2 linked regions of the Homo sapiens genome follow. The protein of the gene in region 1 purifies or fractionates together with the protein of each later gene. This does not show direct contact. Each region holds a gene or a part of one and is shown on either strand. Other genes may lie near its edges.

Region 1 (4,409 bases):
CCACCTCATTTTTCCAGTAGAAAATTAAGAGGCTCAGAGAGGTGGAGAGATTTGTCTAAGGTCACACAGCAGATTCAGCCTGGCTCTGCTTGGCTCAGAAGCCTTTTGTCCACTAGCACTCTGGCTGCCTGTCTCCTGGCACCCACTTCCCTGCCCTCCCTCCAGATACCCACCTCCTTGATGTGCAGGAAGTCTTTGGGCTCGAAGGTGATGGCCACTCCCTGCACAGGCACCTCATCCCCTGGAGACGGATTGTAGCCAACATTTGTCCGCACAGCAAATGCCACTGGCTTGGTCTAGAGGAGGCACACAGGGGAGGATGGCAACTAGAGGGCAAACCACAATGTAATGTACAACTTCCTGACAGTAGTGGTGGTTACTTGGATGTTTACTTTATAATAGTTCCTTGAAATGTGTATGGACATGGGCAGGGTGTGGTGGCTCACACCTGTATTTCCAGCACGTTGGGAGGCCAAGGTACGTGGATCATCTGAGGTCAGGAGTCCGAGACCAGCCTGAACAACATGGTGAAACCCCGTCTCTACTAAAAATACAAAATTAGCCAGGCGTGGTGGTGGGTGCCTATAATCCCAGCTACTCAGGAGGCTGAGGCAGGAGAGTTGCTTGAACCTGGAAGGTGGAGGTTGCAGTGAGCCAAGATTGTGTCACTGCACTCAAGCCTGGGCAACAGGGCAAGACTCCATTTCAAAACAACAACAACAACAACAAAATGTATACTGACACTTTGGGAGGCCAAGGCAGGTGGATCGTTTGAGACCAGCCTGGCCAACATGGTGAAACTCTGCCTCTACTAAAAATACAAAAAAATTAGCTGGGCATGGTGGCACACACCTGTAATCCCAGCTACTCAGGGGGCTGAGGCATGAGAATCATTTGAATTCAGGAGGCAGAAGTTGCAGTGAGCCAAGATGGCACCACTGCACTCCAGCCTGGATGACGGAGCAAGACTCTGTCTAAAAAAAAAAAAGTCTGGGCGTGGTGGCTCACGCCTGTAATCCCAGCATTTTGGGAGGCAGAGGCAGGTGGATTCATGAGGTCAGGAGTTCAAGACCAGCCTAGCCAAGATGGTGAAACCCTGTCGCTACTAAAAATACAAAAATTAGCTGGGCGCAGTGGCAGATGCCTGTAATCCCAGTTACTTGGAAGGCTGAGGCAGGAGAATTACTTCAACCAGGGCAGCAGAGTTGCAGTGAGCCGAGATCATGCCACTATACTCCAGCATGGATGACAGAGTGAGACTCCGTCAAAAAAAAAAAATGTATACTGAATTGGCTTGTGTGGTTTTCTCCATGTATATTAACTTTTACAATAAAAAACAAGAAAGCAAAATGTGGAATTCAGCCCTCTCAGGGTAGAGGCGGGGCACTCAGGAATGAAAAGGGTTGGGGGTGGGGAAGCCCACAATGATACCCAGAAAAAATAATAATAATAGCAGGCCGGGCACGGTGGCTCACTGCTGTAATCCCAGCACTTTGGGAGGGCAAGGCAGGTGGATCACTTGAGGTCAAAAGTTCGAGACCAGCCATGACTAACATGGTGAAACTCTGTCTCTACTAAAAATACAAAATTAGCATGGTGTGGTGGCACATGCCTGTAATCTTGGCTACTTGGGAGGCTGAGGCAGGAGAAACACTTGAATCTGGGAGGTGGAGGTTGCAGTGAGCTGAGATGGTGCCACTGCACTCCAGCCCGGGCAACAAGAGCGAAACTCCGTCTCAAAAACAAAACAAAATAAATTAATTAAATAATAGTTATAGGCCGGGCGCAATGGCTCATGCCTGTAATCCCAGCACTTTGAAAGGCTAAGGTGGGTGGATCATGAAGTCAGGAGTTCGAGACCAGCCTGGCTAACATGGTGAAACCCCGTCTCTACTAAAAATATAAAAATTAGCTGGGCGTGGTGGCACGCACCTGTAATCCCAGCTACTCAGGAGGCTGAGGCAGGAGAATCACTTGAATCTAGGAGGCAGAGGTTGCAGCAAGCCAAGATCGTGCCATTGCACTCCAGCTTGGGTGATGGAGCAAGACTCCGTCTCAAAATAAAATAAAATAAAATAATAATAATAATAATAATAGCAGCCAGGCACAGTGGCTCACACCTGTAATCCCAATACTGGCTTGAGGGAAGGAGTCTGAGACCAGCCTGAGCAATATAGGGAGATCCTGTCTGTTTTGTTTTGTTTTGTTTTGAGATGGAGTTTCGCTCTTGTTGCCCATGGTGGAGTGCAATGGCGCAATCTTGGCTCACTGCAACCTCTGCCTCCTTGGTTCAAGCAATTCTCCTGCCTCAGCCTCCCAAGTAGCTGGGATTACAGGCATGCGCCATCACACCTGGCTAGTTTTGTATTTTTAGTAGAGATGGGGTTTCACCATGTTGGTCAGGCTGGTCTCAAATGCCCGACCTCAGGTGATCCACCCACCTCAGCCTCCCAAAGTGCCGGGATTACAGGCGTGAGCCACCGCACCCAGCCAGCCCTGTCGGTTTTTAAAAAATAAAAGGGGCAGCTGGGCACAGTGGCTTACGCCTGTAATCCTAGCACTTTGGGAGGCCGAGGCAGGCAGATCACCAGGTCAGGAGTTCTGAGACCAGCCTGGCCAACATGGTGAAACCCCATCTCTACTAAAAATACAAAAAAAAATTAGCCGGGCATGGTGGCGGGCGCCTATAATCCCAGCTACTTGGGAGGCTGAGGCAAGGAGAATCGCTTGAACCTGGAAGGCGGAGGCTGCAGTGAGCCGAGATCGCACCACTGTACCCCAGCCTGGGCGGCAGTGCAAGACTCCATCTCAAAAATAAATAAATAAATAAAAGGGGCTGGGCACAGTGGCCCATGCCTGTAATCCTAGCACTTTGGGAGGCCGAGGCAGGAGGATCACTTGCACCCAGGAGTTCAAGACCAGCCTGGGCAACATAGCAAGATCCCATCTCTACAAAAAATAAAAAATCAGCCAGGTGTGGTGGTATGCCTCTATAGTTCCAGGTACTCGGGAGGCTGAGATGGGAGGTCAAGGCTCCAGTGAGCTGTGATCACGCCGCTACACTCAGCCTGAGTGACAGAGAGAGACCCTGTCTCATAAAAAATAATAAATATTTAAATTTATTTATTATTATGTTTTTTGAGACAGAGTCTCGCTCTGTCACCCAGGCCGGAGTGCAGTGGTGCGATCTCAGCTCACTCCAGCCTCCGCCTCCTTAGTTCAAGCGATTCTGGTGCCTCAGCCTCCCGAGTAATTGGGATTACAGGCGTACACCACCACACCCAGCTACGTTTTGTATTTTTAGTAGAGACGGGGTTTCACCACATTGCCCAAGCTGGTCTCGAACTCCTGACCTCAAGTGATCCGCCCAACCGGGCCTCCCAAAGTGCTGGGATTACAGGCGTGAGCCACAGCACCTGGCCTAAAATTAAATTAAAAAAAACAATAATGACAGTAATGACCATTTAGTGTTCCAGGTACCATGTTACACACTTAACACATATTCTCTCATTTATATTCATCACAAAAATAAAAAATCCTCTGAAGTTAAGTGGTATTATTATCTTCCTTTTAATGTGACTTTCCTAAGATCACACAGCTATTAAGAGTCAGGACCAGGTCAGGCACGGTGGCTCACGCCTGTAATCCCAGCACTTTGGGAGGCTGAGGGGGGCGGATCACAAGGTCAGGAGATCGAGACCATCCTGGCTAACATGGTGAAACCCCGTCTCTACTAAAAATACAAAAAATTAGCCGGGCGTGGCAGCCAGAGCCTATAGTCCCGGCTACTTGGGAGGCTGAGGCAGGAGAATGGCGTGAACCCGGGAGGCGGAGCTTGCAGTGAGCCGAGATCATGCCACTGCACTCCAGCCTGGGTGACAGAGCAAGACTGCAACTCAAAAAACAAAAAAAAGAAATTTTTAGCACTTATCAAGCCCTTATTATGTGTGGAAACAGTATAATAACACGCACTTATTATACTTATTATACTGTATAAGCAGGCAGGTATTATAGCCCACATTGTGCAGGTGAAGGACAGAGGAGCAAGGTTCAGGGGTACTAGGAAGTGGCTGGGTCAAGACTTGGCCCTGGTTCTGTCTGGGCTCTCTCTACAGCCCAGGACTGGGGGAAATCATGCCAGCACAGCCCCTCCCCACATCTTTCTCACCTTGGCCTTCTCGAGCTGCGCTAATGCCTGGCGCTCTGCTTCCTTCCTTAAGGCTTCCCGGTCCTCCTCCAGAGATACATCAGAGTCTGATGGACGGCTGGTGTAGGACTCCGCTGAGCCCTGAAAATAGAGAGAGCCAGATCAGGGCCATTGCTGCCCCTCCCAGCTCCTGGGCCTGGGAAGGCATGGAGGTGCCACCCATCATGGATGCCTCGAGCCCCAGCCAGCCCAGCATGACACC
Region 2 (4,236 bases), on another chromosome or scaffold:
GGAGGGCTGCTCCTCCGGGCGGCCACGGCAGGGAGGGCTGGGGCCGCGGCACGGGCGGCCGGGCTGGCGGGGCGAGGGACACTCGTCCATCCGCTCACACACTCACTCGCTCAGCACGCGCCTGGGCCCACCTACGCCTGGGCGTTAAGGAAACAGAGATGAGTCGGAATCGAGCTGCGCCCAGTCTGGTGGGGGAGACAGACAGACACAGACGGTCAGGCAGCCCGAGGGGGCGGCGGGTGGCCGAGGGGCGGATGGACAGGCGAGCGCACAGCCAGGCTGGCCAGCACCTCACCTTGGGCTGGGTGGGTGCCGTTGTCCAGGTAGGTGGTGGTGGTCTTCTCCGCTTCCTCCATGGCCCTGGGAGAGACGTTGGGAGAGCCCAGTGGCACGGAGGGCCCAGATAGCCACAGTGGGTCTCGGCTCTTTGCCCCAAGCCAAGCCCTGCGCATCACCCAGTCTCCAGAGGCATAGCCCACCCTGTGACTCAGAAGCCAGTGAGGTAGACCCCCCACCACCCGATGGCACCCACAACCACCATGCACCTGCCCAGCCGAGGTGGGGGCCTCGCACCTGTTGAGGCGCTGGTGGACGTCCCAGCAGCGCTTGCAGAGGAGCAGGACGCCAGACAACACCACCAGCGTGCCCCCCACGAACAGCGACATCACCACCACCAGCAGCACGTAGTTGTCCAGGATGGGGTCTGGCTCTGCCTGCGGGTGTGCAGGGGGGGTCAGGTGCTGCTGGCCTGGACGACCTCCTGCCCCTCCCACCTGTCCCCTGCACCCACCGTGGGGCGTCCAGTGGCATTGTCCCACGACGTCGTCAGGGCTACTGTGGCAGTGGTGGTGGTGGTGGTGGTGGCGGCTGTGGCCATGGTGGCTGTGGGCTGCATTCTGAACTGGGGAGGAGGGCCCTGTGGGGAGGAAGCCTGGTCAGCTCCAGCTAGACCTACTTCTCCTGCAGGAGCCACTGCAGACAAGCTGGGTCTTCCCTGCAGGAGCAGGAGCCCACACAGGGGGCAGTGACTCATGGAGAGGTAGCAGAGCCGGAGGCAGCCTCCACCCGGCTTGGCTCTGCCCAGCGGGCCCCGGGGGCTCTCTCTGGACCTCCATCTCCCATCCCCATGGCGGGGGAGGAGGCCTGGCCCTCTGAGGGTGCGCCTGTACCCATCACAACTGCACACAGCCGGTGCGGCCTGTCCTGCAAGGTAGCGCCAGGCCCTGGAGCTCAGCGCTGGGCAGGGCAAGCACTCGGAGGAATGGGGACGCCAAGGCGGTGCAGCCGGCTCGAGAAGGACTCCAGACGCCCTGTCCGCCCCATCACGGGGGTGGGGGGCTACCCCCACCCCAAGAAGTTCAGCTACACCCTGGCAGGGCCCACCCGGCCATGGTTGGGTAGAGGGAGACCTCCCGCTGCCTGCGCGCCAGGGAGGGTGCAGGGGCTGGGCGCGTGCTCCCGGGTCACGACTCCGGGAGGTGGAGGTCTCCCCGGTGCTGAGTGCTGGTGGGAGTGCAAGGGACAAAGAAGGCGCATCTGTTCCCAGCCCCGGAGAAGCTGGTTCCCATGGCGACTGCGGAGCAGGCCGCGGCTGGGGGGGCGGGTTGCCAGGGAGCGGCGGGGAGGGGGCGCGGGGGCGGCGGCCTGGGGGGGGGCGGCGGCCTCGGGGGGGCGGGCGCGAAGCCGCAAGATGGCCGCGGCCGCCTCCCCGCCGTGCCCAGCCCGGGCGCCCGGAGCATCCCCGGCCGCCTTACGCTCGGGGGAAACTGAGGCGGGGCGCGGCACCAGGGAAAGGAGCCGCCTGGACGCTGTGCGGCGCAGCCGGGTGGGGAGGCCCGGGAATCGCAGGGGGTCGGGGCTGGCGCCGGGGTGCTCGGCGGCCCCAGGTCAGCACCGCACGCGCGAGACCTTTCCCGGAGCGAGAGGAGCGCACAGGCGGCAGCCGCTCCTGCCCTTCCCGGACTTCCGCCCACACGCGACAGCGGGAAACTGAGGCCCAAAGCCGGGCAGGGTCCCGGCGGGGGCTGGTGTCCTCAGCGCTCCCGGTCACAGGCTGCCCGGGCCCTGGTACTGGGGGAAGGGGCCGCATATGTAGGTCGGGAAATGAGTTCAGGCTGGAGGGGGTGGGGACAGGCGCAGGATGGTGACCGGAGGCCGGGGAAGATGGCAGGAGGCCGAGGGGAAGAGGGGGGCTCCTGGGGGAGGCGGCTGCGGGAGCCGAGGGCGGAGGTTCCCCACGGGGCAGCACCGCGCCCCCGAGCCGGCCAAGGGTGGGGATGGCGAGCCAGGGGAGGCAGGGACCCGACGCCAGGGCTGAGCCGAGACGCCATCGTCCTCGCCCGACCTCACAGGGAGAAACTGAGGCTGGGGCGGGGCCTGAGCGGGGGTCCCTCTGGAGGCAGCCGGGTGGGGGGCGCAAGGCCCGGATCTCGGTCCCCACGCCCGCCGGACTCCTCCGCGCCCTCCCTCCGGCCGCTTAGCCCACAGCCGGCTGCGATCCCCGGCCTGTCCCCCGTCCGCCCCCCGCAGCCCCGAGCCCGCCGCGCCTACCTCAGCGCCGGGACGAGCGGCCCATGGGCGGCGGGCTGGCGGCGGGCGGCTGCGTGGCGCTCGCGGCTGGCTCCGGCGCCCGGTGGCCGCGGAGCAGGCGGAGAATTTATGAATGGAGAGCGCGGCGCGGGGGAGGCCGGCGCGAGAGGAGGGGCCGCGCACGTGACCGCGTTGGCGGCGCGCCCGCTCCGCGCGCCCGGTGCTGCCCGGTCCCCGGCCCGCCGCCCCCGCTGCGCTCGCCGCTGGGTCTGGCTGGCTCCGCGCCGGCCACCGCCTCCCCTTCCCTTCCGGCGGGGCGGGGGGCGGAGCCTGCGCTCCCGGGCGCCCACTCCGCACGCGGAGCCGCCCCCCGCACCCGCCGCGGCGGCCGAGCCCCGCCCCCGGCCCATCGGCACGATTCACCTCGCCCGGTCCTGAGGTCCCAGGGACGCAGCTGGGGGTGTCCTGGAATTCACGACTCTGCAGCCCGAGGTGCGCCGCGTGCGCAGGAGGGGGTGGGGTCCGGGGGGGCACGGACTCCCCTCTCACGTTGCTTGGTCCGTGGGGGTTCTGGGGCGGCACAGCCAGGGCCCCTCGGCCACAATTCCCCTTTAAGCTGCACAGCCCAGGGTCTCTGGACACAGGCGCCCCGCCTGCTTCCCCACGCAGGTCCCCTCTGGCACTGTGGAGGACTCGCCATGCCTCTCCTGCCCCCTCCCCTGTGTGACAGCGATCACAGACCCCGGCACAAAGCTGAGCAGAGCCCATCGGGGCCCAAACGTGCACTCACAGAGGCCTGCTCCTCGTGGGGTGACATCAGAACGACACCCGCAGAAACCCAAAGCCCAAAGCTGCCCCCGCTTCTCCCTCTTAGACCATCGAACCTCATCCTGCAGATACTCAGGCCACACACCTGCCACCAGCCTGGCCCGAGCGCCACCCCAACCCCTCTGAGCCCACGCCTAACACCCCACAGCGCCTCCTCTTTCTCGTCCCAAAGAAAGGCTGACACCGCTCTGGCACGTGGCTGGCCCAGCTCAGCCTCCCCGCCTCTGCCCTTGCAGGTGCCCTGTACCCAGGCCTCTGTCCATGCAGCCAGAGATTCACCCCGGTTTCCTTCAACTCCTTCCCCAGCTTCACAGTCTCGGCGCTTCTGCTCTTGGCTTCCAGCCCATGCCTGGGTCCCCTCCTCTGCTACGTCCCTCCAAGGCCCTATGCCTTGCGCCTTGCCTGTTCCTGTGTGCTGTGGGGCCACCACTCCGATAGCTGTGAACTCCAAGGGCAGCCCCAGGGAACCTGGTGCCAGGCAAATGGGAATTGCATGGGCAAAGGTTTTGAGGCAAAAAAGTTTGCAAGTCAATGCCTGTGAAGGAAGCAGAGAAATCGTCTTGTTCCCAGCAGGACCATGACATGGGCAGGCTTCAGGGTTTTTTGTATTTCGGTTTTGCTTTTTGGAGAGACAGAGTCTCGCACTGTCGCCCAGGCTGGAGTGCAGTGGTGTGATCACGGCTCACTGCAACCTCCACCTCCCGGATTCAAGCAATTTTCCAGCCTCAGCCCGGAAGGTAGTTGGGACTACAGGTGCGCGCCATCATGCCCAGCTAATTTTTGTTTTGTTTTTTTTTGTAGAGATGGAATCTTGCTATGTTGTCCGGGCTGGTCTCGAACTTCTGGGCTCAAGAGATCCTTCTGTCTCAGTCTCCTAAA

Evidence for each region. The genes of interacting proteins can lie anywhere in the genome.
Region 2: the proteins of CACNB1 (region 1) and CBARP purify together in Homo sapiens (co-immunoprecipitation; 3 studies listed by BioGRID and IntAct, with this or other methods). This does not show direct contact.

Annotation. Positions count from the first base shown.
Region 1 is NC_000017.11:39,187,306-39,191,714, forward strand, and holds part of CACNB1 (voltage-dependent L-type calcium channel subunit beta-1), read right to left. Parts: intron 4,289-4,409; coding exon 4,169-4,288; intron 297-4,168; coding exon 174-296; intron 1-173. UniProt on the Homo sapiens protein: Regulatory subunit of L-type calcium channels. Regulates the activity of L-type calcium channels that contain CACNA1A as pore-forming subunit.
Region 2 is NC_000019.10:1,235,206-1,239,441, forward strand, and holds the start of CBARP (voltage-dependent calcium channel beta subunit-associated regulatory protein), read right to left. Parts: upstream 2,801-4,236; 5' UTR 2,551-2,800; intron 917-2,550; coding exon of another isoform or gene 896-916; coding exon 791-895; intron 714-790; coding exon 574-713; intron 361-573; coding exon 296-360; intron 186-295; exon of another isoform or gene 107-185; intron 1-106. UniProt on the Homo sapiens protein: Negatively regulates voltage-gated calcium channels by preventing the interaction between their alpha and beta subunits. Thereby, negatively regulates calcium channels activity at the plasma membrane and indirectly inhibits calcium-regulated exocytosis.